3 linked regions of the Homo sapiens genome follow. The protein of the gene in region 1 purifies or fractionates together with the protein of each later gene. This does not show direct contact. Each region holds a gene or a part of one and is shown in the gene's direction. Other genes may lie near its edges. The genes, in order: IGSF6, AP3S1 and GNPTAB.

Region 1 (10,372 bases):
CTCCAGCCTGGGGGACAGAAAGAGACTCCGTCTCAAAAAAAAAAAAAAAAAAAAAAAAGAGAGGAAGGAAACTCTGACACCCTCTACATCGGTGAACCCTGAGGGCACTGTGCTAAGTGAAATAAGCCAGTCATGGGCCGGGCGCGGTGGCTCACGCCTGTAATCCTGGCACTTTAGGAGGCCGGATCACAAGGCCAGGAGTTCGAGACCAATCTGGCCAACATGGCGAAACCCCATCTCTACTAAAAATACAAAATTAGCCAGGAGTGGTGGTGCACGCCTGTAATCCTAGCTACTCAGGAGGCTAAGGCAGGATTGATTGAACCCAGGAGGCAAAGGTTGAAGTGAGCTGAGATTGCATCACTGCACTCCAGCCTGGGCAACAGAGTGAGACTCTGTCTCAGGAAAAAAAAAAAAAGAAGAATAAGCCGGTCACAAAAAGGCAAATACTGTGTAATTCCAATTATATGGGAGGTGACTGGATCATGGGGCGGATCATGACTACCTAGAGTAGTCAAAGGGACAGAAAGTAGAATGATAGTTGCTAGAGGGTGGGGTGGAGACAATGGAGAGTTGTGTTTATGAACATAGTTTCAGTTTTGCAAGATAAAGGGAGTGCTAGGCCAGGGACAGTGGCTAACACCTGCAGTCCCAACACTTTGGGAGGCCAAGGTAGAAGGATCACTTGAGGCCAGGAGTTTAAGACCAGCCTAGGCAACATAGTCCTGATTTGTCTCAAGTTACTTATGAGCCCAGTTTTGTGCTCAGTGCACTCCTAGACAGTACAACTCAGTCCAGGCTGCCCTGATTCCATGCACTATCTTCTAGCCGGCGGAAGCACTGGATATAAGGTAACTGGGGGTGCTTAAGCATCTGCACTAACATGGTAGGTCACTTTAGTCACTGGAAGCCCATGATACTATACTGACATTGCTGGAGAAAAAGGATCATGTAACACCTCCATCAGTAACCAAGTAGTGGGAAGCAATTAATGAAAACATCTTGCTTCATTAATACTGTAAATAACATACGCAGTATAGCCTATTAATACTATACTCAGAACCAAGTGAAAACAAAGCTTTGCTCAGGAAGACTTGAAACATCTACACTTTATTTTCCAACTCAACTTTTTTCTGTTAAAAGCCAACCATGTAAAAACTGATGACAGGTCACACTGGATGGCAGAAAATACAGTACTGCTTTTAACTACTCTGTACAAGGGATAAATGACTAAGGGCACTGTACCTCCTTTCCTCCCCTTCTCTGAGATCAGTGGTCTGAGCACTTTAGGAGCTTAAAATGCAGGTGCAGGGAGCTAGGAATCAGAGGTGTGGCTTGCATTTCAACCTTTAAGGTCAATTGGTTAGCTTGCTTTTACCACAAATAAAGCTCTTCTTAATTTCTCTAGTACAGTCTTAACTTGATATGAAGCACTTACACGAGGAATGGTGCAGACAAGGCAGCTTTATTGTACTTTGGGGGAGAAAAACATGATTCCATTTACGGGGAAAAAAGCCATTGACACTCAGTAAGCAACACTGCCATCTAGTGGAATGGTGACACACCACCAAGAATTTCAAGACCCGATAGGAAATGTGAGTGGATTTGGTTTCAATTTTCACCACAAAACAGCACTTTTAATAAGCTGGTTTTCAGAGAACTTCAGATTTTTTTGAGAAACTACTTTTTATCTTTAAAATGCATAAATGTATGTGTTTTCTCTGTTTTGGGGGGGTGGTTAAGAATGAGTTGTATTTTTCTTATTAGAGCATAAAGTTCTCTACTTGAAAGTTAGAAAACACTTTGGGGCAACCTGCCTCCTTGAACATCCATCACTTCTGCTTGACAGTCTAACAGCAACCCCTGATTTTAACAGACAGTTTATAAAGAAGCAAAACTCAACTGTACAAGAACGACATTAAGTTTTCTCATTTCCTCTTTCTATTTTTACAATCTATGGTGCTAAGTATTTGTACTTCACTTACTTGAATTCCTGGAAAAAAATCATTAGAACACACCAATAACAATTTTGCATAAATCACATAACCCAACTCTTATTATGACTGCACAGTAACAGTGGAAGATATTGGTGTGAGGATGTGGGAATGCAGTTCTTAATGAATAATAAAGTAATTCTTCAGGTTTTAATTCGCCTTTATACCCAGGTGTTGGAGTGAATGTGTTGATCTGATGACTTCTATGAGCATATAAATGAGAATACTTAATGAAACACCTGGATGAAAAAAGAAATAAAGTAGTGAGGATAACATATTGTTAATAACCACAATCTCATATTGACATTTCTGTTATTACTGAGATTTCAGATTCTGGGTTAAATGCTCTGCTCTTTGGAATATCCACGATGGTTATTGATCTTGCTAATGGGTTCCTCTATGGCAGCATTTCTGGGTTTATGGTTGGAGGCACTCACGGATTCCAGAATGCATGAGTCTGACACGGTCTTCATCAAACCATATTCTTGGCAAATAATAAACTCCTTTAAGGATTTCAGGGAAGAGCCAAGCTCTGGGAGAGAGGTATATAAGTGTAGAGTAAGAAGTTGAATTAAAACATTTTTAGTTGCATTTTGTCAGTAGACAAAACTGAATGTTTCAATTCTGAGAACCTGAGATTGTCCAGAAAAAAACAAAGTTCAGTGTATGGGACATGAGTGATCACAAAGTCAGAACCAGGTTATTTTGCATTTTTCACAGCAGCATTAACTGGGGGGGTGGGGGGAGGGGTCCCTGAAGTTCTGTATCTGAATGAGGCTGGGTTTTTGTTTCTGTTTTTTTTTTTTACTGACTCAGTGTTCACTGCAATTTGCAATAATCTCCCCTTCCCCCAAGTCTGAAGCCTTCCTTCCCCCCTATTCAAATTGTCTGCGTCATTCTCATAATGCTACTATTTGGGTACTCCTGAAGCCAAACCAATAAAAAATGCTAGGGGAGCTTTATATGAATTCAAACATGATGCCAAAGTCATCTCCAAAAAAGTTTATTAGCATGATTAAAAACATTTTCTTGAATAATAACAGAAAGAATTTCTAAACATGAAAGAATATCAGTGGCTATACCTTAAAACCAGTATTTGGAATTGAATGGACAGCTTTATTGCCAGTCTTCAAAAAACAATCCATTGATTGGTTCCATGAAGTCGTGACTATTGCTTTGTCTGGGAATGAGTCCCTACTGCAATTAAGTATAAAAAATATCTTCCATCATAATTGGAGTGTGACCTGCATTGGAGAGTGGCTCTGAGTAAAGAGTTGATAAAAATCCACAAAGAGTTGGGTTTTTGTCTTTTAAAAACATTCCTTTACACACTACAAAGAAATAATTAGTATTTTGGCTTTTTAAATTCCTACATGATATTTAGAATGGCGGTCCCCAAGGGTCCTCCCTTCACGTAATTGTGAACACAGACCCTCTTCCAAGGGCACATCCCGGAGGGTGCGGACTCTGAAGACTTCGACCTCCACGTGTTTATACTGGTTTGAGAACAAAGACAGCGTCATCCAGAACGTAGTAGTCATTATACATGTCGCCTTCACACAGGTATGGTAGTCTGGTGAAAGCTTCGATAACAAAACCAGCTTTTCTGAAAACTTCAGGCAGACTATTCACTTGTTCTTCCCAGTTCTGTCCTTTGATTTCCAAAATTTCTGATGGTTTCTCCCACTTGCCACCTACTAATACAAATAAGAACATTCAGTTAAATTCTTGAACAAACAAGTGATTTAAAGAGGGAAGCAGGGAGGAGCCATATCTACCAAGGACTTGGTACGTTCCAAGCCTGAGGGCTTCATGAGTTACCTCTTTTGTACTTCCCAGGTACTCTTTGAGACAGGTGGGCAGATAAAGAACAGACTCAGAAGGGGTGAAGAACTTGCCCACGCTTGCAAGGTTAATGAGTGTCAGTATGGAAATGTAAGCCCAGGTTTGTCTGGATCCAAGGCCCCACACTGTTATCTTCTCTGACAGTTTTGGGTAGTATCTGCCAATAGACTGACTGCAGGGTGTAATGGTTAATGGGTTTGGAAAACTGGTCATTAAATGCTGGAATACTGAAACAGAGAGCAACATGTAATATCTGAAGGACAGTTTTGGACAAATGCAAGAAAATACCACTGGCATAGTAAACTTATGCAACTTACTACCTAGAGAGATTTATTAGGCTGAAAATAAAAACAGGCTCATGAAGGATTTTAATTTAGAAAAGCAGATCATTGGGGAGTTTTTCTAGGGAAGTTGACTCATTCTTTGCCTTTTCAGAACAATTTCATAAACATTAAGCTCCAGGACCAGAGAGAGATGGAACAGTAGGATGGATACACCGTCCAGCATTTCTTGGACTAGAGATGAAGCCTCTATCAGTCATTTCCAAACCTATGAGCAGGAGATGCCTGGGGGACAAGGGGACTAGGGAAGGTCCTCAAATTCACATACAAACCTGGCACTGACTACAGACACACACACAGAGATGACAGTATATTTAACTTTGGGGGTACTTTTTAGGTGCTATGGTGATACAAAAACTACATACATCTGTTGAAGTGTTAAAACCAGATTGAGGCCGGGCGTGGTGGCACATGCCTGTAATCCCAGCACTTTGGGAGGCCGAGGTGGGCGGATCACGAGGTCAGGAGATCAAGACCATCCTGACTAACACAGTGAAACCCCGTCTCTACTAAAAAAAATACAAAAAAATTAGCTGGGCATGGCAACATGCACCTGTAGTCCCAGCTACTTGGGAGGCTGAGGCAGGAGAATGGTGTGAACCCGGGAGGCGGAGCTTGCAGCGAGCCAAGATCGTGCCACTGCACTCCAGCCTGGGCGACAGAGCGAGACTCTGTCTCAAAAAAAAAAAAAAAAAAAAAAACAAAACAGACTGAGAATAACTTTCTGTTAATGAGAAAATATATCATGAGCAGATGCCAAGGGCACAGACATCATATCATGGTGGGGAGATTTTTCATAATTTTCAGTGGTGCAGATGACGCTCTTCCCATGTCTGGGGAATTGCCTGCCCAGAGTCTGGGAGAGACACAAGGCCTGGGAGCCGCTTTCCTGGCCTGCCGTGCAGCTGAGGCACTGGCACGCAGCCTAAGCCAGGCACACTTGCCCATGCCCTGGAATGGAGAGCCAGTGACCCAGAGTAGTGGGGATGTGAGCTTCTCCTTCTCTGGGGGTGGAGCAATGGCAGTGAGACCAAGGGGCTGGGGCAGTGGTTGAGCGATGCTGACAACAGGGCTGATGGCACCTAGTGTTTGGCAGTGGCAGTAGCATCCTCTTCAGACCTGTTTATGGTGTGATTTGAGGCATTCTTCCTGGCTGTGGACCCCACACAAGATTCACTAGCCCTCCCAGTGACTCTAGGATCTACCTTCAAATGTTTGCATAAATTTCCTTTTAAGTCAGCCTGAGTCTGTTTCTGCTGCTTTACAAAGAAGACCCTTACTGAATCACCACTAAGTGCTGGGGGAGAGGACACAGAGGACAGAGGGCCCACATATTTGTTTCTCAACACATTAAAAGGGGGTCTTTGGGCCAGGCATGGTGGCTCACACCTGTAATCCTAACACTTTGGGAGGCCAAGGCAGGGGGATCGCTTGAGGGCAGGACTAGCCTAGACAACACAGAATCTACAAAAAAAAAAAAAAATTAGCCAGGGGTGGTGGTGCATGCCTGTAGTCCCAGCTACTCAGGAAGCTGAGGCTGCAATGACCTGCAATCTTGCCACTGCATTCCAGCCTGGGTGATAGAGACCCTGTCAAAAAAGGGGGGAAGGCAGGTGTCTTTGGATTCAAAACTGGAGTACAAAAAGTTAATAACAGACAATTTATTTATTCGCTGCATTAGAATGTGTTGTTTACTAACTTTTCTCATCTCTACACAAAGCCACTTCTCCTTCTGCTGTTCTTTGTTCCCAGCAGTTACTGGCCCAGAGTGGCACCCAGAGCAGGTACCCTAGACAGTGACTGAACTGTTCTGAAAAATCCAAGTACGAATTATTTGTCAAACAATACTCCTTCCTGGAAATATGTGCTAGGTGTAAATCAAAATCTCACCCAGAAACATCTAACACCTATGACAACTGTAAAATCCATGGAAAAAAAAAAGATATGCACATTTCTAAATGTGCTCCAGGCCAAAATCTCAATGTTAAATGGTGAAGCCATCCTTGCACAATTTCAAAAAGTTCCTGATTATGGTTCCTTCATAAGAGGTTCCTCTCTTCAGCTCTTCTTCCCTTCTGAAAAAAGAAAGCCAACTTTCCTTTCAAATACACACCCCAACCCGCCCCGGCATACACAGAAATGGGGACTGCGAGCAGAAGCAACATCGCTCGCCATCTGCAAACCAATCTCATTCTATTTTGTGTCGGTAAGGTTCTTTTTCTTCTCCTCCTTCATTTTATTTAAATCAACTGCTATTTTTCACCTAATGCATTTATATTTTAAGCTCCTTCAGATTAATTTTTAAATGTATAACATTATGAAAACTGCCTAAGAGGATAAGTTTCCTTTTTCCCCTGAGAAATAGACAATAAAAAAATAGCTGAGAAAAAGTTTCATATTAACCTTGAAAAGTCTCTTTGCTATTATGCTAATTGGAGACAATCTGACCAAAGGGTTGAAAATATTCTTAAAATCGTAGGTATAAGTTATCAATAATTTAATTATCATACAAACTTGATCTGCACATAGAAAGCAATAAATGATTATTTGCTGAATATTTTCAAAGAACAATTTCTATAAAAGTACTTTTCATTTAAGAAAAAAAAAACTGCCATGACTCCAATAGCCATCCCATAGTATATCTATTTTTAAAATTCTGTCTACTTCTGTTTTTTTATCTATGAAAGAGAAAGGATTTCCAATACATCTAGTAATCTCAGATTTGCCCACACAATTTGGATTATAGGGCAGGGAAGGGGGGAAAGTTCTTAATTTTTTCTCATCTGTGAAGAAATATATCAAAATGTTAATGGGAGTTATTTCAGGCAAAAGGACTATGGGTGACTTTTTGCTTCTACTTTTAATAACCTGTTTTTTGCTAATAAGTATATATTACTTTCATAGACTATTTTAATTAGCATTATTTTAAAGAAGAATTCCTGTCTTTTAGAGATATATTCTGAAAGATGCAGATAAAATGGCTGGGATTTGCTCTAAAATAATATGGGAGTGAGGGAGTAGGTGGGAGGAGAAAAGAAACAAGATTGGGTCGAAGCCATGTGATGGCAGGGGGTTGACTGTACTACTTCGCTACTTTGATATGTTAGAAATTTGAAATCTAATATAATAAAGCTTTGGGCTGGGCGTGGTGGTTCATGCCTGTAATCCCAGCACTTTGGGGGCCAAGGTGAGAGGATCACTTGAGCTCAGGAGTTCAAGACCAGCATGAACAACATAATGAGACCCCCATTTCTACACAAGAAAAAAAAATAGCTGGGCGTGATGGCACCTGCACTGCACCTGCAGTCCCACCCACCTGGGAGGCTGAGGCAGGAGGATCACTTGAGCCCAGGACTTTCAGGCTATAGGGAGCTGTGATTGTGCCACTGCACTCCAGCCTGGGCAACAGAGCAAGACATTTACTTACTTCTTACTTACTAGATAGAGAGACAGCTTTGTTTAAATGTCAAGAATTAGTTCTCTTCCTACTTTCAATATGGCTTTTTTGTTTGTTTGAGACGGAGTCTCGCTCTGTCACCCAGGCTGGAGTGCAGTGGCAAGATCTCGGCTCACTGCAAGCTCCGCCTCCCGGGTTCACGCCATTCTCCTGCCTCAGCCTCCCGAGTAGCTGGGACTACAGGCATCTGCCACCACACCCGGCTAATTTTTTGTATTTTTAGTAGAGACAGCGTTTCACCGTGTTAGCCAGGATGGTCTCGATCTCCTGACCTCGTGATCCGCCCGCCTCGGCCTCCCATAATGCTGGGATTACAGGCATGAGCCACCATGCCCAGCCTCAATATGGTTTTTTAAAATAATAAGAATAATCTTTCTATTCCCTCCATGGAGGAAATAAATCTTCAACCTTTTCATTGGATACTGTGTTTAAAAAACAATTCCTAGAATATGAGGATTCTTAAAAGAAATCATTCACAGAAGCAGGCTGTGGTGTGACATATCCAAACTTCTCTTTTTTGTTAATAGGTTGCCTAACTGGTTGGGGGAGGGAACCACAGTTTCATCACAAGTTCCTGCTCACAGAGGAAATCATTACAATTGGTTTTCTCCCACACATAGCCTAATTGGGAAGAAGGTGGAAATAAGTAGAGATATGAAATTCCAAAGTTACAAATACCTGTTTTTATCCTATACTACTAGTTTTTAAAGAAAAGTGTTGAAAGTCAGCTATCCCCGCCACCCCAACCTCTATTTTTTTTTTTTTTTTTTTTGAGACAAGAGTCTCACTCTGTCACCCAGGCTAGAGTGCAGTGGCACAATCTCAGCTCACTGCAACCTCCACCTCCTACGTTCAAGCGATTCTCCTGCTTCAGCCTCCCAAGTAGCTGGGATTACAGGCGTCCACCACCACACCTGGCTAATTTTTTGTATTTTTAGTAAAGATGGGGTTTTACCATGTTGGCCAGGCTAGTCTCGAACGCCTGACCTCAGGTGATCTGCCCGCCTCGGCATCCCAAAGTGCTGGGATTACAGGCGTGAGCCACCATGCCCAGCCTCTATTCCTTTTATAGAGACAGGATCTCACAATGCTGCCCAGGCTGGAGTGCACGTCCAGACTCTATTCCTTTAATAGAGACAGGGACTCACAATGCTGCCCAGGCTGGAGTGCAGTGGTGCCATCACAGCTCACTGCAGCCTGGAATTCCTGGGCTCAATCAGCCTCCGGTCTCAGCCTCCTGAGTAGCTGTGACTAATGGCCACACCACCACGCCTGGCTCTTTGGCTTCCCTTTTAAAAACACTACCCAATTTGGAAGGCTGAGGCGAGTGGATTGCTTGAGCCCAGGAGTTTAAGACCAGGCTGGCCAACATCGCAAAACCCTGTCTCTACTAAAAATAAAAAAATTAGCCAGGCGTGGTGGTGCACACCTATAGTCTCAGCTACTCCAGAGGCTGCAGTGAGAGGATTGCTTGAGCCCAGAAGACAAAGGCTACAGTAAGTTAGCCAAGATCACACCACTGCATTCCAGTTTGGGCGACACAGTGGGACCCTATCTCAAAAATAAAAATGTGTAAATAATGGAATCGTCCACTTTTTAAAAATAATTTTACAAATAAAAATAAAAACATTATCTGAAAGATGACTTGAGACTGAGACAGTGCTTAACTTTGCTAAGTTTTGGCAGACCCAATTCCATTTTAAATTTCCACTCAGTATATACTATAAAATGTTTCACTGTACTTGTAAGGTGCTTGAGTCTGGGCAGGAGACATGAGGTTGTATTTCTCAGACTTGAGAGGGAATCCAATCCCCTTGGCTGGAGATGGAGCTGAGCTGGGCCTCCCACAGACACGAAGCTCAGAGAAGCTTGCAGGCCTCCTCCAGGTGACTGCACCCTCTTGTCTGGTTTGCATTTATCAGGTCACCACAGAGCTCCCAGCTCATCTCATGTTGCACAAATACTAAAATATAACATGATGAGAAGAGAGCAAGGCGCAGTGGCTCACACCTGTAATCCCAGCACTTTGGAAGGCCGAGGCAAGCGGGTCGCTTGAGTTTAGGGGTGCAAGATCAGCCTAGGTAACAAGGTGAAACCCTGTCTCTACAAAAAATACAAAAATTAGCTGGGCACAGTGCTGCAGGCCTACAGTCCCAGCTACTTTTGAGAAGCTAAGGCAGGATGATGGCTTGAACCTGGGAGGTCACAGTTGCAGTGTGCCGTGATTGCACCATTGCACTCCAGCCTGGGAGACAGAGACTCTGTCCAAAAACAATAACAAAAATGAAAACAAAAACAAAAAAACATGGTGAGAAGAGACTCGCATCACAAACGCCATGATTCTAACTTTAATTCCTCTGCTGTTATGAATGGGGATCCATAAGAGAAACGCTAAGAGAAAAAAGCCCCTGTCTGAAAATTAAGCATCAGACCACTTGGATGACTTTTCAGTTTCATTTACAGTAGCAAAGGACAAACTCACACAAATAGGACCATTTGGGAATATATGACCAGGCGGAACTCAGACCAAAAACTTGACAAATTCCAATTTGTCTCAACCAATACTATTTTACCTATGGCCTCCCCTGCCGCAAAAGAAGGGTTTAGGGCGGGTCTTTCCATTTGTGCACTCGAGTGGCTTTCCAGCTTCACATGCCTGGGATATAAAGGCCAAGGTGGGGGACTCAATCCTCATAACTTGGAAGAGCACCACATGGTGGACAGTACACTGGAGT
Region 2 (10,030 bases), on another chromosome or scaffold:
AAGACTTGTTTAAAATCGAGAATGTCATGATTGATGAAAAGAACTGGTTATCAATATTTTTAAAAATTATTTAAGTAATATCTTAGGAACATCATTTATATTTAAAAATCAGTCTGGGTATAATTGAGACACAGCTTTTTAAACATAACATGCATTTATCTAGGGGCCTTTGTCAGAAATCAGAGCTTTTATTATGTTGGTCTAAAGTTAGTACATTTCTGGTAATGGAAAAAAGTGAACCAGTTTAATTCCCAATACCTAGACAGGTGGAAGCAAAGCTCTGCCAGATCCTGAAAGAGAGAAGCAAAGATATACTCTGAATGTATTTCCATCTATTCTATTTTGATAGAAAAATGGTTTACTATAACATTGGAATATTGGGAGAGGAGGGTTTAAGCTGGGAGGTTGATGGGATTCGGGGGAAGTATAAGAGGCACTCAGGAACCTGCCTAAGAATAAAAGGACTCCCTGGGGGTGGAGGTAGAGGGGTGGGGTTGGGGAGATCTGTTAGCTTTTATGTATTTCATGTTATTCTTAAGATGGATAAATGGGTCTGAATTTAGTCACTACTTTTTGAAAGTCAGTCCTCTTTTTTTTCCGAACATCCTGATCTTTCTAGCTCTTTCCATTCTTCTCTCTTACAGACCTTTATCTTTCAGTCTCCCAGACAGGACAGGTAGACAAGGTATTGCTGACTTTGAGAAATATGTACTATAACAAAGGGAAAGCAAAATGATGTCAAAGGCAATTAATTATTTAGGCCAGACTCAAAAATTCTTTGTGTTAATAAACCCATATAGTCCCTGTAGCCTATTTTCCATTCTAGTTTCTCCTTGTAGTTTCTTCATCTTTTATTGGACTTAGTGTATTTTACTAGTATATCATTGATGTCATGTTTGTTCTGTTTTGTCTGCCTGCATTGTAAAAGGAAAGTTTAAATTTTTTTTAAACACTTGTCATCTAACTGACAAATTGCATTTGCAGAAGTGACAATTTACTTTGTATATAAAAACGTAAAATTTATTTTGAGCATCATATAGCAGAACCAATCTTAATTTAACTCTCACAGATTTGTTTTTTTTCCATCTCTAAATTAGGATTCTAACATAAAATTGCCTGCTGGGTTTTGGAAGCTGTGAATTTAAAAACCAAAAGCTGAACCTTCAGAGTTTTGCATACAAAATGGGAAGCAGTGAAGGCTTAGAATAGTGACTGTTAAATAGTACTTTTTCCCCTCAAATGGTTTTCAGTTCCAAAGTCTTAACAGAATTGCTTTTACAGTTTTGACCTGCAGGTGCATATTAACAGTGGCCAACAGAAAATAAGATCAGAAATCTTATAAAACTTGACTGTATTTCAAACTAGAATGCTCGAAAAATGGAATTACCAAATTACCAAATCACCAAAATACAATGGGTTTTCATTGTAGCAAACCTTCTGACATCCAAACATGTCATAATCAGAATCAATAAAAATATATTAATGTTTTAGTATTGAATTAAAAACCCTGAATATTTTTGCAAAGCGTATTGGCAAATATTGGAAATATTTTTAATAGACCTCTAGTTTTACAAAACTAATTTTTCTTCTGATATTTCCTGTACGTTTTTTCACACCATAAATTAACTGTGTGAATTACTTTTTTAAAAGTTCCATGTACGTGGTGATGAGCAACTATTTTGTGTGAAACCATGTAAGCAAAAGAAATGTTTATAAGGTCTCTGATTGAAAATTTCAAAATAAAAGTAATTTATTGAGTCCTATGGAGGAAAAAATGTATAAACTTACGAAGTTAGATTATGCACTTACTAATTAGAAAAACATCACTGAGAATTGATGATTGTGGTGATATCACAAAGCATTGCCTTTTAGCCACTAAATTTTTACTTACTCTCTCGATGTGTTTGAGAAGAAGTAGCAACATACAGGTGGCTTTATAGTATCTTATTTTGAGATTGTGGGCTATGTCACAAAACTGGGGTACCGTTTTTGGTCCCTCTATCCATGTTATTTTGTCCCTCATATAGAGAATACATAGTAGTCTCATTCTCACCATTGGTCAGAATTATTGCCAGTTTCTGTGTTACAGTATGTAATTTATTACTGCTATTTTCCAGCAAAGAACCATTAATCACTTGGGTCTGTTAACTTTATTGCTAGAACTGTTAATTGGCCTTTTTTAAAAAAAATCAAGTTTCTGTTTTCAAAGAGGAGAGAATAAGAAAAGTGGCTCTAAGGTACTGATGGTGGAAGGTCAGCTCATGAGCTGGTTCTGCCTCTCTACCTTGACATACACATTTGTCTTGTACTTCTACAAAATTATGGTGAGAACCCTTGAGGTCACTTGTAATGGTCAAAACTAGTAATGATAAATCCATGAAAGTCATTAGTCTGCTCTCTTTTTTTCATGCAGGCAAATCCTATGTTTGAAATTAAAGCTATAATTGAAGATAATCCGTACAAAATGACTAATAATTTGGAAGGTTTTTTAAATTTTTGAGCACTCTAATTTTGTTAAAACTGTGAAACACCATAGTTATTGCTGTCTAGAGAATTGTCATGAGCTTATCTAAATGTTTATAATTGCAGTATTAAAGCACTGCCATTAAAACAAAGCCTATTATATATCCCCAGATTAAAAGTTATTCTACCTCGTGTTGAGGGATTTTTTAAACTATTGACATTTTCTTTTTTGCTCAAAAACATGCTTTCAAAATCTGCCATTATTTTGTTAATGATTTTGAGTCTGAAACCATTTAATATTGTGTTTATTAATGTTGGTGTTCTTTCACTTTGCTGTTAGGTCAAAATTATGAATGTGCATATAGCAACTTCCAGCAGGAAGGGTGGGTAAAGGTTTTAATACGTACAGTTTGTTCCAACTACCATCTTATTATGCTGTATTCAAACTTGAAAAAAAAAAAGATATTTTAAGATGGTAGGATGGTATTTTATGTCTTAGATGAAATAAATAACAAGATTACTCTATTACTTTCCTTTTCCCTTCAAGAAAGTTGATTGTTTATTGCATGAGGAAAAGGGAGCTTTCAGGGTCTTCGAAATACATTTTAGTAATGCTGCTTTTTCAGTTTTGCTTGCACATATTTTGTTTATTTTTGGGTCTGGCAATTTAAAAACAAAATCAAAAACAAATCATATCCATCCATTACTATCTTTGTGATTCAAGTGCTTGAAATTTCCAAGAGTATGTCTGTATAAGTCTTTATCTGTTTGGCCTCATTTTGGTATACTTGCAGACTTCATTTTGTTTTCTTTCTCTTAATTCTGTTAATTTATTTAATCTCATGGGAGAGAAAACATGATCATTCTTTTATATACTGTACTTCATTCTTTCATCCAGTTCATATTCTTAACTGCTTTGGATTCATATATTTGTTTTTATTGGTGTAGTCGCTGCAGTTTTACCTGCCATGGTGGTGCTCAGGTATAACATAGATGGAAACAAGTTATTTCTCCAGTAGAATTTCATTCTTTTTATTTCTGCTGTGTGTCAACTATATAATCTTAAATCTTTAAGAACTATGTTGTACTGTCAGAAATATCTTACTTTTACGTTTAAAAATGTATTTACAGTAATCCCCCCTTACCTGTGTTGGGTACATTCCAAAACCCCCAGTGGATGCCTGAAACTGTGTATACTACTGAACCTTATATATGCTATGTTTTTTCCTATGCATATATACATATGATAAAATTTAATTTATAAAATAGGCACGGTAAGAGATTAACAACTAATAATAAAAGAGAACAGTTATAACAGTATAATGCAATAAAAGTCATGTGAGGCCAGGTGCACTGGCTCACGCCTATAATACCAACACTTTGAGGGGCCAAGGCAGAAGACTCACTTGAGGCCAGGAGTTTGAGCCAGTCTGGGCAACACAGTGAGACCCCATCTCTACAAATGTATATTTTTTACATTAGCTAGGCGTGGTGGGACACACCTGTAGTTCTAACTATTCAGGAGACAGATGGGAAGATCACTTGAGCCCAGGAGTTCAAGGCTGCAGTGAGCCATGATTGCATCACTCACTCCACTGTGGGTGACAGAGTGAGACCCTGTCTCTTAAAAAAAAAAAAAAAAAAAAAAGTTATGTGATTGAGGCCTTTCTCTATCACAATATTGTACTGCACACACTTATTTTCAGACCACAGTTAACCACGGGTAAATGAAACCATGGAAAGTGAAATTGCGGGTAAGGGGGGACTACTGTACTGCTAACAAGTCAGGTAAACAATTTCTGTAAGTTTTAGCGTTGAAAAGTTAAGTGTTAGTAAAAGTTATTTTGTTGCTTTGAATGTATCTTACTGGAAAAAAAAAAAATCTTAACCAAGATGAAAATTACTTCATACCTCTGTGTCAGCAAACTGATTGCCTAATGGAAAGTTACTTTACATTTTATGTTTTAATAAAAATGTTTCAGGCATCACTTTCATGAATGTCTGAAAATGAAATTTGTTTTATAGCCATTCTGGTGTTGACTGAGTGACATAAAGTCTTTTTTTTTAGCCCTAAATTTTTATATATAAACATTGCTAGCTGGTTTAAACATCTGTTGATCAATTGTCCTTATCATATTTTCTCAACATTTTATATTTTGCATAATATGATTTCTTTTTAAAACGTTAGTTTAATTAAAACTTAAAGCACCTATTACAACTTTAAATTTTCCTACCATTTAAATTCATGGCATACTACACAAAAGTATTGAACATGCTTGAGAAATAATTTGATCCTCCTAATTCATTTGCGTGTTCTGAATAGTTCCTATCTTTTGCATGTCTATGGCTTGCTGCTTATGTTTAGAAGAATTGTAGTTTGTTGTACTTAGAAACTTCTTTTGGTTTTACATATTAAGCACAAATATGCTATTTAAATCAATTGCTATATTGACTTTATGTATTCTTGTTAGCAGCCAACAGTCGACACCATCTTTGGTCACAATGATACAACTCAATCTAATGAAATTTAACAGGATGCATTTTTAAATTTTTTTAATTTATTTTTTGCTTTAGTTTAGCTCTTCATGGTACAGGATATTATGGAAAAGAGAGCTTCATGTACATTTAATACTGAAAACATTATGTTTACTATTTATAAGTGTAAACCATAGTGTCCAATAAAATACACAGATAAACACACACACACACACGCACAATTTCTCTCACAATAATAAAATCCCTTAATAATTCACACCTTTAAAATATTTATACTCAAATATTTTGTCAATACTTTTCTATAGTCAGTTCATTATTTGTCTTCTTTATGGAAATTCCTAAGTAAAAATAGTGGCAAATTGGTCTTTTAACTAGAAAAATTACAAAATCCTCCTATCTAAAAAATGATACTACCTCCAGGACGTCTGCAATTTTGTAAATTTTTCTTCCTTAGTAGACAACATACTTCCTGGTAAAAGAAAGCCAAAAGATGGTAAACCTCTTTGAATTGGATTCTTCTTTGATCCCAACCCACTCTAAATTTTGGTAGCTAGACCTTTAACTTGAAACGATCAAATTAAAGACCCTTTCAAATATTATACATGCTGCCTTAATTATTATTTAGTTGTATCTCCAACATCTTTGGGGGAGCAGGAAGGAAGGGGGGGTAACAAAAACTTCATTGCTTCAGGTAGGTATAAGTATAGAGGTCAATCACATTTTTAGTTGTACATCAAAAATAACTAACATCCATTAAATTATAAAACTTCTCCAGCCCTATTCACTATTTAATTGGGTATGGAGTTATTCATTTGTATCACTCTTATCATTGCCTGTGTAGAATATACTTATTATTAATACTATTCTACTAATTTTTCTATTATTTCCAATTCTGAATTGATAATCCATGGCTTTTATTTCATTGCTTAACAATGTTTGTATCCTTTATTTAGCAAATAGTTTACACTGGCCTATTTTGTATCAGTCAAGATTTTTCTCAGGTAACAGCTTTATTATTATTTTTATTTTAATTAACAAAGGTAGGATTACATAAGAAAAGAAAACTAAAATTATGAAAAGGGACCTTAAAGCTAGTGTTTCTAATTTTATGGACATTGCCATATATAATCTAATCAAAGTGGAAGATTCGTTTTTGTTGTCTATTTTTGTACAAAATGATGCCACTGAACTCAGATGTCTTTGTTGACTTTGCTTTATTATATAGCCTGAATAAAAAGTAATGAAATGTAATTGGTATATAAATTAAACCTCAAATATGAAGGCTGTTAACGTAGGTGAGAAAAATGATATGTATGCATTTTCTTTTATTTGTAAGCATATTTTCTTTTAAAATTATTTCACAAATTACAAATGTTCCTACTAATAGGAAAGCCAAATATTATGCACTAGTGGTACTTACTGGAAATTTTAGAATTCATTTATTTATATTTACTACCTCTTGCATTTATGCTTTTCTTTCTCTAAATTTGTAAACTGTAAGCTGAATATATGTTGCTGAATCTATGCTATATGACAAAACATTTTTAATCGTTATATTTTTACTAATGCATCAAAGGGTTGGAATGATCCTCTTCGTGTAGTTTCATCTTTAGGCAGAACTATATTCTTTGGATTGAGGCTTTACTTGAAAGCCTATTTTTTTAATGTTCTAGAACTTTATTAGAAAAGTTTAAAAGAGCCCTCACAATTTAAAAAACTAATTTTATTGTTTTAAAATGTTTTAAGGGTTTATCCCTAAGAAATTAAACAAGCACAATCTATTACTTGCAATTTTTATTTCACAGCACATATTGCTAATAAATGCCATTTTAAAAGCAAAAGAAAATCTATCACAATCGTTGCAAGAGATATTTAATAAGGAAACTAATGTAAATCATGCTTCATGCTATCTGTCAGTTAAATCAAGATATAGGTGAAGATTTAGGTTTTATCATGTGAATATTGTGTGGTAGTGCACATTAATTTGTATTTAAATCTTTACATTGTTATCATTGCATGTGTTCACTGTATTTTTTAATGTGTCACTGTTTTCTCTTTATAGATTAGTATTTCAAAGTAACCATTCCATACCAATTCAAACTACCATCTGGTCCCTAAGCTTGTTATATGAAAATCTTTTATCATTGTCTTCCATTGTAAGTGTTTTATGATGAGCTACACCTGAGTTGTACATTTTCTTTTTCTTTTATTTGCTTCTGTATACAGGCTGGCTTAGCAGGAGCTCCAGCCCGTGCTGTATCAGCTGTAAAGAATATGAATCTTCCTGAGATCCCAAGAAATATTAACATTGGTGACATCAGTATAAAAGTGCCAAACCTGCCCTCTTTTAAATAAAAATGTAAAAAGGCCACTCCCAGGTAAAATCCAGGGGGAAGAGTCATCTAAGTTTACCATGCAGTTGTTTACCAAAAATAGAGGAGGAGAGTCTTAACTTTTGCTCTTGGATTTAAGTCAAGGTACTGTATAGAAGTTGTGTAAAATCAGTATGAAAGTTCAATGTTGCTGTTCTTGCTCAGTGATTTTAAAGAAATTGAGTAGTTCCTATGTGATTTTTTTTTTTCTTTTCTAAACTGCATTCCTGTGCCCACCTACGGCATGCCTCTATGTATTGGCTACTACAGTGTTTTAAAAAGTGTTTCAGATATTTCTCTAATTATGTACAACCTAAAATGTTGGTGTTTTGTATGGATCACAAGTGCAGCATTCCTTAATTCCTTCTGCTATATGTCACACAGTTGTTATTTGGAGAACCAAGTATGTATTGCATGAAAACATTATGACTTTTTTCTCTTAGTTTAAATAAACTCCAAGGTAACTGGACTTCTAAAGCACCTTTCTGTTTGCCTGATATCTACTTTAGCAATAATTTTTTTTACAACCCTCTGACTCAACAAAGTAAATAAAAGTATATTTTATCACTATTAAGCAGATGTTAATGTCGATTTATTTTTTACTCATATTTTTAATATTCAGAAACTCAGTAAATTATTCGGAAACTCAATTATTTCACAAATCAAGAGCAGTGTATCTTAGGCATATTGCGCAAGATGAGATCTGGAGTGGGGGGGCGACAGTCTTTCTAAAATGTATATTGAGAAAATGTAAAATCTTTTTTATACAAATAGCTTTAAGCCTTGCCTCTTGTTCCTTCTTGCCCAGATGGTAAAAAATAATTTCAGCCAATACCTAATTGATTTTGAATACAAAAACCCTTGGGACTCTACTTGTCTGTTTCATCCTAAAACAAAGTTAAACTAATGTTTTCTTAAGTCCTAACACTCACATATTCTAGTTTCTTATAATTGGCCCACATTTTATTTGGTCTTCCATGAACTGTGAGTGAGGTTACTTTTCCAGTTAGACTAAGGTTTTCCTTACAGTTCTAGTTCTCCTTCCTCAAATATTCTCTTTGAAATACTTCCATAGACTTGCAGCATGTATGAATTTTACTCCAAGAACCCTAAGATATAAGAAAAGTTACTTTATTTTTTTCTAAATAAAATTAATCTGTCTCTAAGCTCTCCAGCATGTTAGGGTAACAGGAAATTTAATCTGATTATTGGGATTTCCATCAGCTCAGAGATAAGAAAAAGTCCTAGAGAAAGGTTATGCAGAGTAGAGCATTTCAGGAGGTCCCTGGTCTTTAGTCATTTGACAGTGTTTATTAAGTGTTTACTGTGCGCTCCCAAGTCCCTGTCTTTTTTTTTTTTTTTTTTTTTTTTTTTTCCCAGAAGGAGTCTCGCTCTGTCGCCCAGGCTGGAGTGCAGTGCGCGATCTCGGCTCACTGCAACTGTGCCTCCCGGGTTCACACCATTCTCCTGCCTCAGCCTCCCGAGTAGCTGGGACTACAGGCGCCCGCCACCACGCCTGGCTAATTTTTAGTAGAGACGGGGTTTCACCGTGTTAGCCAGGATGGTCTGGATCTCCTGACCTCGTGATCCGCCTGCCTCAGCCTCCCAAAGTGCTGGGATTACAGGCGTGAGCCACCGCACCCGGCCGTCCCTGTCTTTATGGAGCGATATCAGTAACACAGAGTGCCTAGCAGTACCCCCTCCCCTCACCACCACCCCACCCTTTTCCTTTTCTCGTTGTTTTTGGGGAAACAAATTATGGGAAGGTTAAATGTTGGTTTGGTTAGGATATGCCAAAATTAGGGAAACCTCTGGGCCAGAGCATACTTTAACTTCAAGAAACAGTCAAAAGTGTTTTATCTCCCATTATATTCTATCAAATACAATGCCCCAACAACCAACCATCCTTCCTCCCCTTCCATTCTCTCATCTCCCCTCCCTCTCTCTTTTCTTTCCTGCAGAAAATACTTAGCATTAGCTATGTGCCAGGCATTGTTCTGGGTACTAGGATAGAGCAGGGAACAAACTAGATTCTGTTGGAACATAAATTCATGTGGGGTGAAACAATAAATATATGATATGTCAGGAGGTGAGAAGTGCTATGGAGAAAAGTAAACCTGGGTAAAAGATAGGGAATAGTAGGGTTGGGGGTAGGAGCTGGGCTGTTGCTGTGATTTATAGAATAGGTAGGAGGAGGCATCTCTGATGAAGTAACATTTGAACAAAAACCTGAAGGAGGTAAGGAAGGCATCATGGGAACTTGTGGAGCAAGAGTAAATCCACATAGCAAGTAGCAGATGGCAGGGCCCAGAGGCAGGGGCGTGCTTGAGATGTTTGAGAAACAGCAAGGAGCCAACAGCAAAATGGGCAAGAGGGAGAGTGAGCTCTTTAATGTTCCTATTGTCCACCTCTCACAATGTTTGTTCATGGGCAATACACAATAAGGGATATTAGCTTTTAAACTTTTTGATATTTTGGAAAGTAACAAGGCATAAACTTCTGGTTAAATGTACATTATTAAACACTTACTCACATTTGTGCTTTTTCAAACCACACTAAACTGACAGTAAAGACATAGACCCAAATGGACAAAAAGGATCAGACAGGTGATAATAGCTACAAAATTTTTGAAGCTGGAAAGCTTATGAATAAAGCTAGAATATAAGTTAGCAGTGGAATAATCATGAAAGTATGTGGAT
Region 3 (11,227 bases), on another chromosome or scaffold:
TTAATCAGCTACTGAAAGCTCTTTAATTTTCTTATGACCTCACAGTGAGGCTTTTGAAGCACACTATTTCTATACACAAAATATGTGTAGGCCTGGGACAAGAGGTCCCTGATTGAGCAAGATTGTTTTCTTTGGATGTTCAGTTTTCACCCTGGCTAAGCAAAGGGAGACTCAAAGATGGTAAATGTTTTAGGGTCCAATACATAAAAACATTCTCATTGTCTCCTGAGTTTTGAACCAATTGAGAAGATCATGCAAGATACAGGCAGATGAGGATCAGCTTTAATATTAATGAAATTAACTGCAGAATGTTGTTTTACATCTATGGACAAGGGGATATATAGGCTAATACTTCATCCCTGACTCAGATACACTTTCTAGGCACTGGCTTGGGCCAAGGGACAGGAATTCCCATGCCTGGTCAAGAGTGGCTCAGAACATCTGCAGCAAATAAAAATACAGGACACAGCTGGGCACGGTGGCTCACGTCTGTAATCCCAACACTTTAGGAGGCTGAGGCGGGTGGATCACCTGAGGTCAGGAGTTCAAGACCAGCCTGGCCAACATGGTGAAACCCTGTCTCTACTAAAAATACAAAAAATTAGCTGAGTGTGGTGGTGGGCACCTGTAATACGAGCTACTCAGGAGGCTGAGGCATGAGAATCACTTGAACCCAAAAGGCAGAGGTTACAGTGAGCCAAGATCACGTCATTGCAATCTGGCCTGGGCAGTAAGAGCGAAACTCCATCTCAAAAAAATAAAATAAAATAAAAAATACAGGACACACAGTTATATGTGAATTTCAAGTAAATAAAGCTTTTTAAGTATTGCATGGGATTTGCTTATGCTAAATGTATGTGGCTGCTTATCTGAAATTCACATTTAACTGGGTATTTTATCTGGCAACTCTACTATCACTGGTCTCATTTCAACTCCTCAGGCCCCCTCCAATACATTTTCCACGCCACAGTTATGATAACTCTTGAAATTCATTATCTGATTGTGTCATTTGTTAGACTTTATTAAAATTCTTCATTGTCTTTAGGATAAGGTCTTTCATTCTTGCTATGGCCTTTAAGATCCTGCCAGACTCTCTAGTTCCATTTCATTGCATCTCCAGCCCTTCTTGCCTTAGATTAGGCCTTCCATGTGGCCAGCCTTGCCTGGAACATAGTTCCCTTCCCACCCCACATCTTGAGTCCTCCAGCTCAATCTTTAGTATCACCTCCTCCAGGAAGCCATCCCTGACCTCCCAGGCTAGGTTAGTGCCCCTCACAATACTAATCCAATATATATATGCCCCTCCAGAGTGTAAATCCCACAAAAGCAGGGACCATGTCTTTCTTGGTACCCAAGTATTGGGGTACCTAAGTCATTACGAGATAGACTCAATGTCCAATAAAATGCCCAGCACAAAGCATTCATTCACAAATGCTGAATAAACACTAACCATTACTTAAACTTTTCTCATAGATTGAGCTCACCACTATATGCCATATTAGCCTACTGACTGTACTTGGAGGTACTGTTGCCTTCACTCTATCTCTCTGCTCTTACAGATATCTACATCATTGATGTGAAGATGATTACATTTTTGGAATTCATTTGACTTTTTTAAAAAATATTTTCTACATCATTTTTTTCTCTAGTTACTTCATGTTTGGGAGAAAGGCAGGAAAGGGACCTCTTTATTTATTTATTTATCTGCTATAGACTGAGAACCCAGATGACAGTTTCTCGGAATTATATTTATCAGATTTTGAGAGGGACTGTGGGGTTCTTCTAAAAGCAAAACTCAGGGGTTTCACTGGGTTCCTGGGAATCCTTTTTGATCTTTTGGCTTTTCTGGCTCTTTTAGGTTGCCAGATAAAATATTTCCAGATAAATGGGATGCTACTGCATATTTTTTCCACTGTTCAGATGTGGAGAGTTTAAAATCATTTCCAGGCCAGGTGAGGTGGCTCCCAGCATGTTGGGAGGCCAAAGTGGGAGGATTGCTTGAGCCCAGAAGTTCAACACCAGCCTGGGCAACATAGTGAGACCCTGTCTCTACAAAAAATTTAAAAAAATAATTTCCACAACTTATGCATTTACATACTACTAATGTTCTTGAAGTGCATATTTAATCAGTTAATTCTCCTGCTGAAAACCTCATTGCTTTCAGAACAAGGCTAAATGTTAATTTTCTTAAATTTTTCCAACACTAAAAATGTCGCAGGCACTTGAGCATTTTCATGTGTTATTTTACATAACCCTCCTAACTGTATAAGGTAGCTACTACAGGTATATCATATTGCACCCACATTTATTTTATTTAAGTTCAACCATACTGCCTGAGGAGGGGGAAAAGGGAGTGAACAAGAGCAAGTTCTCTAGAAGAAAGGACTTAGACAATGCTCCTGACCTCCCTTGAGGCTGTCTAGTTGGAGCCTAAAGATAAAGGAAAAATTTAAGGGTAATTCATACTACAACAAAGCATACTTTTTAAGAAGGACAGGTTCTAGGCAAGGCTAGGACTAAAGTGAGGACAGTGAAGCACTTGTCTTGGGTGGAAAATCCGAGGGAACTCCAAAAAACTCACTAATCAAGAGGAATAATATTTTAATGCTATATATATATATTTTTTTTTTTTTTTTTATTAGATGGAGTTTCACTCTTGTTGCCCAGGCTGGAGTGCAATGGCACGATCTCGGCTGACCGCAACCTCTGCCTCCCGGGTTCAAGTGATTCTCCTGCCTCAGCTTCCTGAGTAGCTGGGATTACAGGCATGTGCCACCATGCCCTGCTAATTTTGTATTTTTAGTAGAGATGGGGTTTCTCCATGTTGGTCAGGCTGGTCTCAGACTCCTGACCTCAGGTGATCCACTCGCCTCAGCCTCCCAAAGTGCTGGGATTATAGGCGTGAGCCACCGTGCCCAGCCTAATGCAATATTTTTAAAAAATCAAAATTAATGGTTGGGCGCAGTGGCTCATGCTTGTAATCCTAGCACTTTGGGAGGTCAAGGCAGGTGAATCACTTGAGGTCAGGAGTTCAAGACCAGCCTGACCAAGATGCTGAAACCCCATCTCTACTAAAAATGCAAAAATTAGCCGGGGGTGGTGGCATGTGCCTGTAATCCCAGCTACTCAGGAGGCTGAGTCAGGAGAATTGCTTGAAGCCAGGAGGCGGATGTTGCAGTGAGCTGAGATCACGCCACTGCAACCCAGCCTGGGCAACAGAGCAAGACTCTGTCTCAAAAAAAAAAAAAAAACCCAAAAAACAAAAAAAACAAAAAACATTACTGAAGAATATCCATGAAAAGCAAAACACCCAAACTTTATGTTTTATTTTACGTTTTAAATTTTTTTTTTATTTTAATAGGAACAGGGTCTGTTACCCAGGCTGGTCTCAAACTTCTGGGCTCCCAGACTCCTGGGCTCAAGCTATCCTCCCACATTGACCTCCCAAAGTATTGGGATTACATGCATGAGCCACCACACCCAGCCCCGATATCAAAACTATAAACAAAGACAGAATCTCACTCCAAACTTGCATGACTCATTTCACAGTACCTTCCCCTAATCTTGGCCCTGTTCTACAGCCTAAGTACCTGGTTCAAATCTCAATTCTGTCATTTACTATTTGTGTGATGTTAGATAGTTACTTTTTTTCATCACAGTTTCTTGATCTGTAGAATGGGGATAATAATGGTATCTCCATTATAAGATTATTGTGAGGATTAGATGAGCTGGGCACATGGCAGATGCTACATAAATGTTGGCCATTATCCTGAGAGTCCTGTTGAGTGGCAGATGTTTTTATATCTGTTACCATGCTTTTTTACCCCTTCTGATTAAGTCCTCAGATCTGTTATCATGCTTGAAAAGACCTCAGAACTATATGTGTCTTGTACAACTGCAATAATCTTTTGCCATGTACATATAGCATATATCAATCATCTTTTTTAAAAGAAGGATTAAAAGAAGTGACTGCAAAGTGTAAAAAATCTTGCCTTGGATTGGAGTGAAGCTAACCCCTTTTGCAAGTCTGTTAATTCCACCTGACCATCAAACTGAGGGTGCGAATTTGAGTATTTCCTGAAGCTGGTTCCCAAGATATTTTTAAAAATGCTTTGAATGATGGCAACATTAGATAAGTGTATTGTTTCCCAGGGTGACTAGGAAAAAAATCTTATTGACTAGGGTGCATTGGGATTAAGAAAAAGATCTCCCTTTCGTAAATCAGAGGCACCAAGGAAAGGATCTCGTGGGAAAAACCTGCTGTCAAAGTCGGATTACCTGGCCACCCCTGAGCTGGTTCCCCTCCAGTTCATCGCATGATTTCTATCATAACAACTCTTGTATTTAGTGGTTTACATGTTTATCTCCCCCACTAGACTCTCTGAGAACAGTAGCCAGGTCTAGTTCATTTTTGAATACCTGACACCAAGCACTATGCCACCTAACAGGCACAAATTACATATTTAACGACTAAATGAATGAACGAAATTCGGTTTTGGCAGATTTAACCCAAAGGTTTCCTCTTTCAAACAATATAGTTGGGGGTTGGAGGAAAGGAGCCACATACAGCATCTCCTTTTAGCACTCTGCAGAGAATGCTAAGTGCAGAGAAGGTTTTATGCACAAAAATATTCATGGCATTATAGTACCGTCTATGGCACAGTCTCGACGCAGGGGGCAGTTTTCTCTTGGTCGCCTGCCCAACCGGGTAAGTGGATCCCAGCTCAGCTCCGCCCCTCCCAGCCCAGCCCTCAGGGCCCGCTGCGCAAGCGCAGGTGGGGAGGGCGCGCACCTTCCCTATGCCCCTCCGTCCTCCAGGTGGCGCTGGAGACCCCGCCGCCGCCGCAGCCGCCTCTCGCCCGGCCAGACCCGGGCGGCGCCGGCCGCCTCGCCGGCCGCAGGTCCGCCTCCGCCGCGCCGAGGGCGTGGGCTCCCGGCTCCCGGAAGCGGCGGCCGCGGCGCGGAGCCGAGCGGGCGTCCGTCGCCGGAGCTGCAATGAGCGGCGCCCGGAGGCTGTGACCTGCGCGCGGCGGCCCGACCGGGGCCCCTGAATGGCGGCTCGCTGAGGCGGCGGCGGCGGCGGCGGCGGCTCAGGCTCCTCGGGGCGTGGCGTGGCGGTGAAGGGGTGATGCTGTTCAAGCTCCTGCAGAGACAGACCTATACCTGCCTGTCCCACAGGTATGGGCTCTACGTGTGCTTCTTGGGCGTCGTTGTCACCATCGTCTCCGCCTTCCAGTTCGGAGAGGTGAGTAGCGGCGCCGCAGCCTGGACCGGGCGCCTCGACCCTGCACTGCCCTCGCCGTGCCCCGCGATGCCCCGATACAGTATGTATTTTTTCATTATTAGAGACGGGGTTTTGCCATGTTGCCCAGGCTGGTCTCGAACTCCTGAGCTCAGGCGATCGCCCTGTCTCGGCGTCCCCGAGTGCTGGGATTACAGGCGTGAGCCACCGCTCCCGGCCAAATACAGTATTCTTTATCATAAACGTGTGCAGAGACTATGAGCAAGTCAGAACTGGAAAAAGGCATGTATGTGATTTTAGATATTGCTCCCTCGCCCACCGTTTTTTAAAAATAGAGACGGAGGTCTCCCTATGTTGCCCAGGTTGGTCTGGAAGTCCTGGGCTCAAGTGATCCTCCCTTCTTGGCTTTCTAAAGTGCTGGGGTTACAGGCATGAGCTACCGCACCTGGCCCAAGAAAGCCACTTTTAGCAACGGGGAGGAAAGCTGTATTTTTAAGTGGTTTGAAATCTGTTCCTTAGTTTTAGTTTTTTTCTTTTTCTTTTTTTTTTTTTTTTTTGGTAGGAGGTTACAAAAGGTTTTAAAATTTAACAGAGTAGTTTTTAGAAATGCCACAGTATACATTTGCTTGAAGTCTTTACCCATGCTGGATTGTAAGCTCCGTAAGAGAAGGTGCTGTCTGTAAATACTGTAACCCTGGCCCAAGCACAGTGCCAGGTACTGCCAGAGAATGCAGTGCAAGTGTTTGTTTAATGGCTAAATTATATGGCATGAATTCTGAGCATGTACTTTTTTAGTAGTTCTTGGTTCTAGAGGCTGGGAAAAAATGTCTTACCATAAGGGTGAGAAAGCTCCAGATTTGTAAGTGTGAAATATGTACTTAATATTATAGTACTTGCTCGTCTTTGTTTCATGTGTTGCAACTTAATGTATCTGTGTGTAGTTAGGTGCCTTATTGCTTTTGTGTGATTTTTTTGGCCTTGATTAATTTTGAGTTAACTGTTTATTAAGTCCCATGCAGTGTGAAGATGACTTAAAGGCATCAGGTGTTAGAATTCTTCATTTTATTTTATTTTTTTGAGACAGAGTCTTGCTCTGTTGCCCAGGCTGGAATGCAGTGGCTCCATCTCGGCTCATTGCAACCTCTACCTCTCAGGTTCAAGAAATTCTCCTACCTCAGCCTCCTGAGTAGCTGGGACTACAGGCGCGTACCACCATGCACAGCTAATTTTTGTATTTTTAGTAGAGATGGAGTTTCACTATGTTGGCCAGGCTGGTCTCAAACTTCTGACCTCAAGTGATCTGCCTGCCTTGGCCTCCCAAAGTGTTGGGATTACAGGTGTAAGCCACCGCACCTGGCCCGAATTTTTCATTTTATATCCTTTTCTTTTTGCTTTCATTCCATGCTTGGCTGTTTACCAAAAGAGAGACATTTTGTTGCAGTCCTGAAATGGCCACAGATCATAAGGTTTGGAACAGACAAGAGAAATGAGAGGCAGACAGTGCCAACAGGTGTCATGAGAGGTGAAGGCAGCTGGCCTGTGGTTAACTTGTAAGGCATAATGGAAAAGAGGAGCTGCATGATTAGGCAGATTTGGCCTTGATTGCTGACTCCAGTTGATAATGATCATAATAATAGCTAATACTTATATTGGTCTTAACAGGTATCAGGCACTCTCTTAATTGCTTTACATATGTTAACTGATTTAATCCTCACAACATCACCCCTGTGGGATAGGTGCTATTATTATAACCATTTTATAGGTGATGAAATGGATGCATTTGCATTAGAATCCAGCTAATTTGTGGCAGAGCTGGGCTTCAAACCAAGCCAGGCTGGCTCAGAGCTGTGCTTTTTTTTTTGTTTGTTTTTTGAGATGGAGTCTCACACTGTCACCCAAGCTGGAGTGCAATGGCGCAATCTCGGCTCACTGCAACCTCTGCCTCCTGGGTTCACGTGATTCTCATGTCTCGCCTCCTGGGTTCACGTGATTCTCATGTCTCAGCCTCCCAAGTAGCTGGGATTACAGGTGCGTGCCACCACACCTGGCTAATTTTTTGTATTTTTAGTAGAGATGGGGTTTCACTATGTTGGCCAGACTGGTCTCGAACTCCTGACCTCATGATTCGCTTGCTTTGGTCTCCCATGGGATTACAGGCGTGAGCCACCACGACCAGCCTAAGCTGTGCTCTTGAGCACCCCTTTTTATGGTTTCTCAAACAGCCCAGGCTGTTCCTTGTCTGATCTTGGGAAGGATATTTAACCTCTCTGAGCTTCCTTATCTTTGAAATGGAGGCCAGATTACCTTCCTTGCAGGGTTGATGAGGATTAAATAAGATGGGTATGTAAAGCACCTCACACAGTTCCTACTACATAACAGACCCTCATTAAATGGTCATGGCTACTGCTGCTATTATATTATCAACTCTTTTATGTCCTTAAACCTTATTTTGAAATATATCCTTGAATCAGAATACTTTGATCATATAGTTAATATTACCAACTTGTTAATAATCTCACTAATTGTAATGGATTGTAAGCTCACTAATTGTAAGTCCTTTTGGACTAAGAAGATCATTGTTTTTTTTGTTTTGTTTTGAGATAGAGTCTCACTCTTGCCCACGCTGGAGTGCAGTGGGGTGATCTCAGCTCACTGCAACCTCCACCTTCCAGGTTCAAGTAATTTTCCCTGCCCCACCCTCCGGAGTAGCTGGGATTATAGGCACCCGCCATCACGCTAGACTAAGTTTTTGTATTTTTAGTAGAGACAGGGTTTCACCATGTTGGCCAGGCTGGTCTCAAACTCTGGACCTTAGGTGATCCGCCTGCCTTGGCCTCCCAAAATGCTGGGATTATAGGTGCGAGCCACTGTGCCTGGCCCTCAGAAGATCATTGTTAACTGTAAATTTGTTATCGTCTCCTCCTCTCAATATAACAGGTATTTGATGCTGTATTTTGATAAGCCTTTTCTATATTCATCCAAACTTCGAGAAGTAGAATTGAGGGAAGGAAGTATCAAACAAAACAAGCTGGGTGAGGTGGCTCATGCCTGTAATCCCAGGACTTTGGGAGACTAAGGCTGGAGGATTGCTTGAAGTCAGGAGTTGGACAAGCCTGGGAAACAAAGGAGACCCTGTCTCTACAAAAAAAAATAAAAATAAAGGCTGGGCGTGGTGGCTCACACCTGTAATCCCAGCACTTTGGCAGGCCGAGGCAGGAGAATTGCTTGAGCTCAGGAGTTTGAGACCAGCCTGGGCAACATGGCGAAACCCTATCTCTGCAAAAAAAGTAGAGTAGTCCCAGTTGCTTGGGAGACTGGGGTGGGAGGATCACTTGAGCCCTGGTGGTTGAGGCTGCATGAGCCGTGATTGCACCACTGCACTTAAGCCTGGGTGACAGAGTGAAACCTTGTCTCAAAAATAAATACATAAATAAAAAAAGTTAGCTAGGTGTGGTGGCACATGCCTGTAGTCCCAGCTGCTCAGGAGGCAGGAGGCTGTGGCAGGAGTGTTGCTTGAGCCCAGGAGTTTGAGGTGCAGTGCCTGTGATTGTGCCATGCACTCCAGCCTGGTAGACCTGGTCTCAAAAAAAAAAAAAAAAAAAAAAAAAAAACAACTCCCACAGGGAGAGCCTTCAGAATGGGGACTAGTGGTCACAAAAATGCATTGCCTTGGACTGTAGGTAGCAGGTAATCAGTCTATTGTAAATTAGTTAGCTCCACAAATGGTGTTACTAGATTGACTGCTCTTAAGATCCTTTTTAGCTTAGAAACTTCTGGTTTTTAAATAATTTGTTCTCTGTTAGTTGCTACTGTATAGATTTTAAAACGTGTTTTTGAGTTAAAATTTATTATTTCAGGGCCATCATTATTTAATCGAACCATTTATATACAAGTCCACAATTCTTCACACTCAGGAAAATACAGACTATACCTAGCCTCAAGTCAGTTTAGTCATTTTGCCACCAAATAAGTACAGGGCAGGTCAAGTTTAGTTGCCAAATAAGGTACAAAAAGATCTCTAGGTAGGGCTGGTCTGTTTTGAAAAAAAAAAAAAATTAAAAATCAGAAAAATAAAATTAAAAAAATTAAAAATTAGAAACAAAAAGTTGAAAGCCCCTCCAGTATTCAGAGCATTTTGGATTTCAGGATTACTAATAGAGGGTTGTAGATCAGTGTGTATATGTGTATGTGTATCTGTGTGTGGGGGTATGGTGTATGTATAACGTATCACTTCCTTTGTGCACTAAGTATGGAAACAAATATCCAAGAATTAACTTGCATAAGGAAGCAAAATAGGTTCACATAGAATCTACTCGTAATGAATGGTAATTTTTCCGTGACCTCTCTGCTCCCTTTTGCTTTCCTGCTTTTCTGTTGCCATTTTGAATCAATGAGTTATTTTCTGTGAAAAGGAGAATTGAAAACTGGGTCTAGCTCAAGTTATGTTCAGCCTCAGTGGTGACCAGTGTCTTATACTGGCCTTATTTCAAGAAATTAGTTATCATTTTTGTATTTGATTAGTTCACTCATTAAACAGATATATTTGAGTGTGTTCTTGGCCAAAGGCAACAAACAGATGAGTTAGAAAGAGGCCTGGCCTGAGAGTGGGGACCGTCTGGCCTGCTCCTAGGTGCAGCACAAATTGTGATCCTCAGTGGTTCCCAAACTGAGTTACTCCCAGCTGCCTTGTGGGTTGGGAGTAGCCCCTCTTATCTATTTCGTGTGGACTTGTTTTCTGGGAAAGGTTTCATTGTTTAAAAAATGTTTACAAACTATGAGACTATATTTCTAAGAGCCTCATTTTAGCTTTAATGTTTTGTGAATATACATTTATTGGATACTTCACATGAGAAGCATGACTTGTAATGGATTTTATACTAGAGATGCCAATGGCCACACAGAGCCTTTTTAAAGGGTCTCTTTGTTTTGGGGGGTTTGTGAGAGGTACATAGTCCAGCTAACTATCAAAGTAGGGACCTTGTCTTATTCTCTGCTGTATTCTTAGCCACTAGAAAGTGATTGGTACCCAGTAGATGCTGAATAAATACTTGATGGATGCATGAATGAATGGATTGATTAATTGGGTTGATCTTAACTGACATCCTTTCAAATTTATTTCAAGTAAAGGTAAATTTTTTGCTCTGATGTAGCGTTTATAGTTCCCTTTTATTTCTCAAATGTGATTGATCTGATATAACTTGAACATTTTCATGCTCTGAGAGTCATTCCTGCTCTGGTAACTTTCTCTAAAAATCTGAGACCTGTTGTTAGACTGTACAGTGGAAGATGCTGTCGTCAGAATATACAGTGGAAAATGCTGTCAGAGATACAAATAATTATAGCTCATGCCTTTGGCTATTGTTTAGTTGAGATGAGGCCAAGATGTATGTATGAGGACTGAATAACAACACAGGGGAATAAGCAATTGAATGCCTGAGTTAGTACACAACAATTGCTTAGAAAGTCAGAAGACAGAAGAATGTTGTGGGTTGAAACATCCTCGAGGCAGTTCTGACACCTTTTCAAGGAGGCATGAGCTTTAGGGAGGCTTCATGGACAAGTAGGAGTTTAAACAGAAGAGAGACAAGGAAAGATTATTTTAGGAAGTGGTGGGAGTAATTTTAGCATAAAGTTGGTAATGTCAGAGAAGTTTGTGATCGCTTTTTCTTTTTGAATTACTAGTGGTTTAACATTGCAGCTAGAATTAGTTAACAGCACTAGGTTGCAAGTGACAGACTCCCAACTCAGACCTAGCTTATTAACTAGTTTATTATTAACCAGTTTGTTAACTGGGATAATTGAAAAATATAGGATGAGGCCAGGTGTGGTGGCTCATGTGTGTAATCCCAGCACTTTGGGAGGCCAAGGCGAGTTCGAAAGCAGCCTGGCCAACATGGTGAAACCCTGTCTCTACAAAAAATACAAAAATTAACTGGGCGTGGTGGTGCATGCCTGTAGTCCCAGCTACTTGGTAGGCTGAGGCAG

What was found.
Region 2: the proteins of IGSF6 (region 1) and AP3S1 purify together in Homo sapiens (affinity purification with mass spectrometry; 2 studies listed by BioGRID and IntAct, with this or other methods). This does not show direct contact.
Region 3: the proteins of IGSF6 (region 1) and GNPTAB purify together in Homo sapiens (affinity purification with mass spectrometry; 2 studies listed by BioGRID and IntAct, with this or other methods). This does not show direct contact.

Annotation. Positions count from the first base shown.
Region 1 is NC_000016.10:21,648,546-21,658,917, reverse strand, and holds the start of IGSF6 (immunoglobulin superfamily member 6 precursor), read left to right. Parts: upstream 1-6,309; 5' UTR 6,310-6,319; coding exon 6,320-6,386; intron 6,387-10,372. Other genes in the region: METTL9 (protein-L-histidine N-pros-methyltransferase isoform 1 precursor), read right to left, coding at 3,486-3,691.
Region 2 is NC_000005.10:115,906,177-115,916,206, forward strand, and holds the end of AP3S1 (AP-3 complex subunit sigma-1), read left to right. Parts: intron 1-644; coding exon of another isoform or gene 645-680; exon of another isoform or gene 681-685; intron 686-5,912; coding exon of another isoform or gene 5,913-5,960; exon of another isoform or gene 5,961-7,179; intron 7,180-7,185; coding exon 7,186-7,314; 3' UTR 7,315-7,905; downstream 7,906-10,030. UniProt on the Homo sapiens protein: Part of the AP-3 complex, an adaptor-related complex which is not clathrin-associated. The complex is associated with the Golgi region as well as more peripheral structures.
Region 3 is NC_000012.12:101,824,577-101,835,803, reverse strand, and holds the start of GNPTAB (N-acetylglucosamine-1-phosphotransferase subunits alpha/beta precursor), read left to right. Parts: upstream 1-4,844; 5' UTR 4,845-5,128; coding exon 5,129-5,245; intron 5,246-11,227. UniProt on the Homo sapiens protein: Catalyzes the formation of mannose 6-phosphate (M6P) markers on high mannose type oligosaccharides in the Golgi apparatus.